Homo sapiens: one gene and its partner. Changing the gene in region 2 together with the main gene of any one other region gives a genetic interaction. Each region holds a gene or a part of one and is shown on either strand. Other genes may lie near its edges.

Region 1 (4,266 bases), on a different chromosome or scaffold from region 2:
AGACAGTGTGGTGATTCCTCAAGGATCTAGCAATAGAAATACCATTTGACCCAGCAATCCCATTATTGGCTATATACCTAAGGATTATAAATCATTCTACTACAAAGGCACATGCACATGTATGTTTATTGTGGCACTGTTTACAACAGCAAAGACTTTGAACCAACCCAAATGCCCATCAATGATAGACTGGATAATGAAAATGCGGCACATATACACCATGGAATACTATGCAGCCATAAAAAATGATGAGTTCATGTCCTTTGCAGGGACATGGATGATGCTGGAAACCATCATTCTCTGCAAAGCAACACAAGAACAGAAAACCAAACACTGCATGTTCTCACTCATAAGTTTGAGTTGAACAATGAGAACACATGGACACAGGGAAGGGAACATCACACACCAAGGCCTGTCGGGTGGGGGGAAAGGGGGAGGGATAGCATTAGGAGAAATACCTAATGTAGACGACAGGTTAATGGGTGCAGTAAACCACCATGGCACATGTATACCTATGTAACAAACTTGCACGTTCTGCACATGTACCCCAGAACTTAAAGTATACATATAAAAAAAAAAGATTAAAGTTTGAGAAGAGTCAATGTAAGTAGTTGGGAAGCTAGTACAGTAGCTGTACTAGGATTCTAGTGGTGATGGAAAAGAATTGAAAAGATTGAAAGCGAATTCAAATTATTTTTCAGATACATTTCCTCCTTGAAGAAGTTAATTCATTTCTTCTGCCTATTTTCTGAGATGGTTTCTTTTAATTTCTATGAGGTATTTCCTATTAAGGGCATTAGCCCTTTGTCATATCTGCTGTATTTTTTTTTTCTAGTTGGTTGTCATTTCTTTTCTTTGGTAGGTTATTCAATTTTTATGTAGATAAATCTCTCTTTCCTTTTGTGGGTTTTTTTTCCCACTAATTTTAAATTATAATATCCTCCATCATCTCCACTTTTTTCTGTCCTTTTTATCTCCTTCACATTAGAACACACTAGACTTCAGTGGTGGATGTGTGTAGTTCCTGCTTTCACAAATTCATGTAATCACCTAGTAAACATATGTGCTACACATGATAGACACATAAACACAGGAAGACAGAAACAGTTACATAAGTGTTTCCAGAGGAGAAAGCAATCTGGGTGCACAAAGAACAGACACCTAACCCAGACCGAGAGGAGTTAATGAAGGTTTCCTAAAGGTCAAATTTTAACTGTTTTGAAGAAGAACAAAAGTTAGCTAAGTGTGAAAAGAGTCTTTAATGACTCATCCCCTGTCATTTCCATCATCAAAGTCATTACAAAATTTGATATGAAGCTCCCTGGGGTTGAAATCCCAGGGACATTACTCTGATCTTTCATACATCACAGGTAACCTAATGCAAAATAGCCCACCAAACGCTTTCTGGCACAAAGCACAAGCTTAATGTATGTTTATGAGTAAATAGTAACTACTTTCAGCTTCCCTCTTCAGCATATCCTGTACTCCACTGTCAACTGAAATCCTGACTCGTTAATCTGGCAGCAGAGAATATATTTCAGTTTTATTTCCTTCTTCATCTCACAAGTTCCCATCAGTGAAGAGTTACTTATCCCTGTATTACCCACGGGTTCTTCTGCTACTAGCCCTTTCCTGCTTATACCAGTCCCTCTGCCTGGAATGACTTCTTCCCCTTTCCTGAATCACTGACTGCAATTCCTGTGCAAGATCCCTAAAGACCAAGGACAAGTATCACCCATTTCATTTTGCCGCCTTTGGAAACTTTTCTGCATTACTAGGTTTTGGAGGCATTCTTCACACATTGTTCTGTAACACAGGTGAGTGTTGCTTAGCTCTCTTACTTGAGTATAGGTTACTAGAAAATATGAAATATCCCTTACACTACTGTGTGTAATCTAAACAGTGACTTGCTCATAAACGGGATAAAGAATTTCCTTTCTGTATCTAACTGTGAGGTCCTTACTCGATCCTTATGTTTCCAGCTTACTTTAAGACTTTGGATGACATTATTTTGTTGAATAGAAGCAGAAACCAGAGGGGGATAAGTGGTAGAAATGGTATTTTGTCGACACCGCACACTATGGAAGTGACGGTGGTGAGAACAAATGTCTGATGAGAATGGACTGAAAAAGCAGAAAAAAGAATTGAGGATAGCAAGTATAAACAGCTCTTTATTGAAGTTCTGCTGTAAACGGAAGCAAAGAAATAGGACACTAACTGGAAGAGGAAACGAAGTACTGAGCATACAGTCTCATTCAAGACCACCAATTTCTTAGAAGCTACAGCTCTTACTTTCTCTCTTTCATTTTCGACAGGCAATAAAGAGCAGGTAATGTGTACTGAAAGTTTATTAAGGGTCAGGCACTTGCAAATACTTTACGTATCTCAGTTAATCTCACAACCCTGGGACGAACTATCTTGAGTTCCGCTTTACAGACGAGAATATTGAACGTACAGGCTAAAGGTTCTTCCCAAAGTCCCACAGACATAAATTCGTGGGGCCTGACACATGTCTCTCACTTTAGTCACCTGGAGACCGAAAAGGGAAATTACCGGTTGCCAAACTCCAAGTTGCGGGAAACCCGCCTGGGCCCACCACGAAAGTTCCTCCAACCGCACCCTCTATGCCCGCCTCCGACCACGCGTCTCAAAAGAGCTGGTTTTGAGGACCCTTAAAGTCAGCCCCATAGGTTCCTCGGCGCTCACCTCGTTATTGAGGTTCAGAGTTCCCGGCTGAGCCATGGTAGATGAAGGAATATGATCCGCCGCTGCCTGCACGTGAACCGGTCTCTCAGACCGCGGCTGCGTCGCCACGCCCCTCAACGGAAGCCTCTTCTGTCCAAAACTCATCCGCCTTCTGCTCTAGCTGCCGCCTGGGAACAAGAAACATTGACGCTTGGAAGGGAAAACCGGAACTGAGACAGAACAACTACCGGCGCAGAGGGCTACGCAACGGAATTGCGCGTTCCTATGGAAACCAGACGGGGGCTGGTAGCTGGGCAACGTCTAGTTTTTCAAGATTCGGTTTGTGTGTGTGTGTGTGTGTGTGTGTGTGTGTGTGTGTGTGTGTGTGTGTTCCCTTGGTACACTGCGCTCGCATTGTACCGGCCTTGGTTTTTCTCTCTAATGGCTAGGGGGGCGCTGAACGGCGGTGAAAGAGCTCTTCTGAAATGATCACTTGAATGAACGATTTTTTGCTTCCATTTTTTTAAATCTAGTATTTGTGAAGATTTCTGCTTTTCTAACAAGCACACCTTTTTAAATCCTCGCAGTTTTTTGTTACAACCTGACATTATAGCTGAGGTGCGGACATTTTTTTCCTGCACACTATAGAAGGGTTTAAATTTAGGGAATAAACATTTGAAGCAAAACCAGGATACACATTTGGTACTGCCTGTGGGAATGGCTGTTTATTAGCCGGCAAGCATAGGAGACGTAAGGGAGTGTGTTTGAATTAGGTAATATATAATTGTCAACACCTTCTAGTATTGACCATTAAAATGTGTCAAATGGTGGTCCAAGAGCTTTACATAAATTAGCTCCAAATCTCCACAGAAATCCAACAAGATAGAAATTATTTTCCTTTTATTAATATTATTTTGTTAGAGACCCAGTCTCTCTTTGTCATCCAGGCTGGTGTGCAGTGGCACAGTCATAGCTCACTGCAGCCTCAAACTCTTGGGCTCAAGCCATCCTCTCACCTCAGCCTTCCAAATAACTAGGACTACAGGAGTGAGCCACCCTACTCTGCTCTGAACTATTATTTTACAGATGTGGAAAGTGACTTCAGAGGCACCAAGTGCCTCGCCCAGAGTCACTTGCCTGGGACTGTCCACTGCTACAGGACTTCAAGTCCAGCTACATAATACCTGGGGTACAGTGCAAAATGAAAATCCAGGCCCCTTTATTCAAAATGCAGGAAAAACGTTTCTTCCGGCGGAGGGTGGTGGCTCATGCCTGTAATCCCAGTACTTTAGGAAGCCTAGGCGGGCGGATCACCTGAGGTCGGGAGTTCGAGACCAGCCTGACCAACGTGGAGAAACCCCGTCTCTACTAAAAATACAAAATTAGCCGACCGTGGTGACGCATGCTTGTAATCCCAGCTACTCGGGAGGCTGAGGCAGGAGAATCACTTGAACCTGGGAGGCGGAGGTTGCCGTGAGCCAAGATCACTCCAGACTGGGCAACAAGAGTGAAACTTCGTCTCAAAAAAAAAAAAAAGTTTCTTCCATAGCGTCTCTTGACTCATCATGGTGTTTGTTAATT
Region 2 (3,500 bases):
ACTTTATTTGGCAAGAAAATAAAACTGGAAATAGAATTATATAGCAGCTCATCAAATGCTAAAGGATGCATTTGGTTCTAAAGTTCAAAATGAGTACAGTACATCACACTCCAGTATGGAAAATGTTCATGTTATAGGTCATTTTAATGAACACATGCACACACACTTTAGTTTTCAAAGACCAAAGTTTAAAGAAAATACTTTTTAGTCAAGTACAGATCCCCAAAGGTTTATTTAAAGCCAATTTTTATTTAAGTAGTCTTCATTTTTGAAGCATTTTCCCCTAGTACTCTAATTTCAAAATCAGTATCTCTCAAATGCTGATGCCACTGGGAAAAATTTCCAAATTGGTAATGGAAACATATGCTATGTGCATCTGCTCAAACTAGCAACAACATGATGTCAAATAAAAATGGATGGCATTAAAAAAAAAATCCAAAAACCTATAATGGCAACTCAAAGCAGCAATAATAAGAAGAAGAGATTAAAATCTCTAGTTAAAAACAATCAAGACTTGCAGATTAAATCTGAACTTTACTCCTTCTGTTAGTACAAATCAGAAACTTCTTGCTACTCAAATTCAAACAGGGTGCAATGAATGTGTTACTTTCGTATTCCCAGTAACTACCTTTCCTCACCTGCTCCCTACATTCTGGCTTTCTTCTAAAAATTTCCCCCTCCTTTGGGTGAATTCCTCTCTTGATTAGCTCAGGAACGGAATGTGATCCAATCTGGGCAAAATAAAAGTACTTCTCCAAAATTTTACATAGCTTGCTTTATAAAAGCTTTCAGCCTTGTTATGCTAAGGTAAGCTGAAAATGTCAATTGCTGTTATCCACCATCCTCTCACCTCACTGTTCCTCATCCCATACAGAATATCCCCAAAGGGAAAATCTGAAAAGAAAACCAATCCATAAAGAAGAAAATAATCAGAGCCAAGTGTGTAGGATGGCAAGATGACTGCTTTTGACGTTTGGACCCAGGACCCAGTCATTGCCTGGACTTCCCTGTATATAAGCCAATGAACTGCCCTTCATGCTGACACTATTTTGAGTTTTTGTCACTTGCATATAAACAACACATTTTAATGCAACAGAGTACAGCTTAGTCCATTTTGTGTCGCTATAATAGAATATCTAAGACTGGGTAACTTATTTTTAAAAAGAGTTTTATTTGGCTCATGATTCTGGTGGCTGGAAGGCTCAAGATTGGGCAGCTGTATCTGGTGAGGGTCTCATGTTGCTTCCACTCTTGGTACAAAGTGAAAGGGGAGTAGGTATGTGCAAAGAGATCACATGGGAAGGCAGGAGGCAAAAAGGAGAAAATCAAGAAAGCCAGACTCTTTAGTAACCCTTGCTTGTGAGAACTAATCCATTCCCACGACAGCAAGAATGAGAACTCACTCACCCCAGTAGGAGGGCATTAGTTTATTCATGTGGGATCTATCTGCCCCCATGACCCAAACACCTTCCATTAGGCTCTGCCTCCCAACACTAGCACATGGGGAATCTAATTTCAACATGAGTTTTGGTAGGAACAAACTATATTCAAACCATAACAGTATATGATTAAATAAAAATAGACCAGCATCTTTATGTAAAATTTAGTAACATGAAATAAGGTACAACACAAAGTATATGTCAACATAATTAAACAAAAATGTATAAAGAAAATTGTTGGCATTATAGTTATGTGATTAACATTTTAATTATATGTCATGAAACCCAAATCCCACTACTTGCTACAGGGAAACAAACTGGATCAACTACATTTTGGAATCTTAAATATCTATTTTTAATAACTTTTTTTTTTTTTGAGGCAGAGTCTCATTCTGTCACCCAGGCAGTGCCCAGGAATGCAGTGGAACAATCTCAGCTCACTGCAAACTCTGCCACCAGGGTTCAAGTGATTCTCGTGCCCCAGCTTCCTGAGTAGCTGGAATTACAGGTGCCTGCCACCACGCCTGGCTAATTTTTGTATTTTTAGTAGACACAGGGTTTTGCCATGTTGGCCAGGCTAGTCTCAAACACCTGACCTTGTGATCTGCCCGCCTCAGCCTCCCAAAGTGCTGGGATTACAGCTGTGAGCCACTGTGCCTAGCCAATTCATATTTATAAAAGGAATAGGTACAAGTTTTATTTACTATAATTTATGACTATTAATCCTATATGTATAATTAGCAATTATGAAAGGCCTATCTTCTCTTTGAAATCACTGTTTAAAAAAATAAAGAAAACCAGGTGGAGCTTTTCTCCTTTTAAAATGTGATTCATGAACAAAATGCAGGATGCTGAACTTAACATGGGTCAAGGAGTTTGTTTACACACCAGAATTTGACAATAAGCTAACATGGAGAGGGCCTCCAAAAAGATATTGGGTCTCAATGCTACAAACATCTAGGGTTTTCAGTTAGTTATTCCAATTTCATTCTCTCCAAGCCATTGGTAATTCACTAAAACACACGTGTATTGTAAATCTTACGGGAAAAAATATGCATATTAATCAAATGAGTTGATAATTATATTTAGGGGAATTCTAAGAGTTATATTCTTTCCTAATAGCCTATAATTGAAAAGTCTAATAGAATTCTAGAAAATAAAGATGGCAAAGATGCATTAGATAATATAGATTTCTTTTTTTCCTCCTGAGCAGTGGAAACTACAGGATAGTTTGTTTTCTGTCCAGGTTTCAATTTAAATTCAGAAGGGGGGATGGAACTCAAGACTTTTCTTGGAAATGAGACTACATCATAACAGATTTCACTGTCAAAAAATTCCTATCCACCCTCATATTCAGATCATATTCAGATCGCAAGTTCTTTTTGTATACGTTATCCCACTTCTCCTAATAACAACACGTTTCACTCAATTCATCTATTTCTTGCTGGTTTCAAGAAGACACATTTCACTTTTGATTATAAATGAATTCCTTGAAATCTTATTTGTCTCTCCAATAATACTGTGAACAACGTAATTCTACACAAATTCTTTATCATATATTAGAAGATTCCTGATGTTGCTTTAGAGATTATAAATATATATGTATGTATGTTTCTCAAGTTGCAAGGACTCACTTTCTATGAACTTTCTATGAATCACATTCCATTAGTACTTTCATACCAAGGGTCCTTCTGGCATTATTGTTTTTCGATTCTCTTCTCCAGTTTCTACCCCAAGTTATACTTGTGTCCCACAAATTTATCTTCTGCTCATCTTCTCATTCTCTTTTCATATTTCAGATCTTTTTAAGTCTCCTTAACTAACGTCTCTGGTTTCTTTTTGGTAAAAAACTTATTCCAACTGTAACTAAAAATCAATTTCATTAATGTCCAGTTTTATCATTGCTTTTTAACCATTAAGTACACACATACAATATAGATGTAACAATCTTTTTACTCTCTTACAGTCATATTGCAGTTTCACAGTGGTATAAACTCCAATAAAATTAAGAATTTTTTTTCAGTACATGAGATCAAACTGTATACAGAGCTGCCATAACGT

What was found. A genetic interaction does not mean that the proteins touch.
Region 1: changes in ZNHIT6 (region 2) and SRFBP1 together harm fitness more than expected from each alone (negative genetic interaction), as found in Homo sapiens cells (one large-scale study listed by BioGRID).

What each region holds. Positions count from the first base shown.
Region 1 is NC_000005.10:121,960,509-121,964,774, reverse strand, and holds the start of SRFBP1 (serum response factor-binding protein 1), read right to left. Parts: upstream 2,801-4,266; 5' UTR 2,743-2,800; coding exon 2,707-2,742; intron 1-2,706. UniProt on the Homo sapiens protein: May be involved in regulating transcriptional activation of cardiac genes during the aging process. May play a role in biosynthesis and/or processing of SLC2A4 in adipose cells.
Region 2 is NC_000001.11:85,649,434-85,652,933, forward strand, and holds part of ZNHIT6 (box C/D snoRNA protein 1), read right to left. Parts: 3' UTR 1-3,500. UniProt on the Homo sapiens protein: Required for box C/D snoRNAs accumulation involved in snoRNA processing, snoRNA transport to the nucleolus and ribosome biogenesis.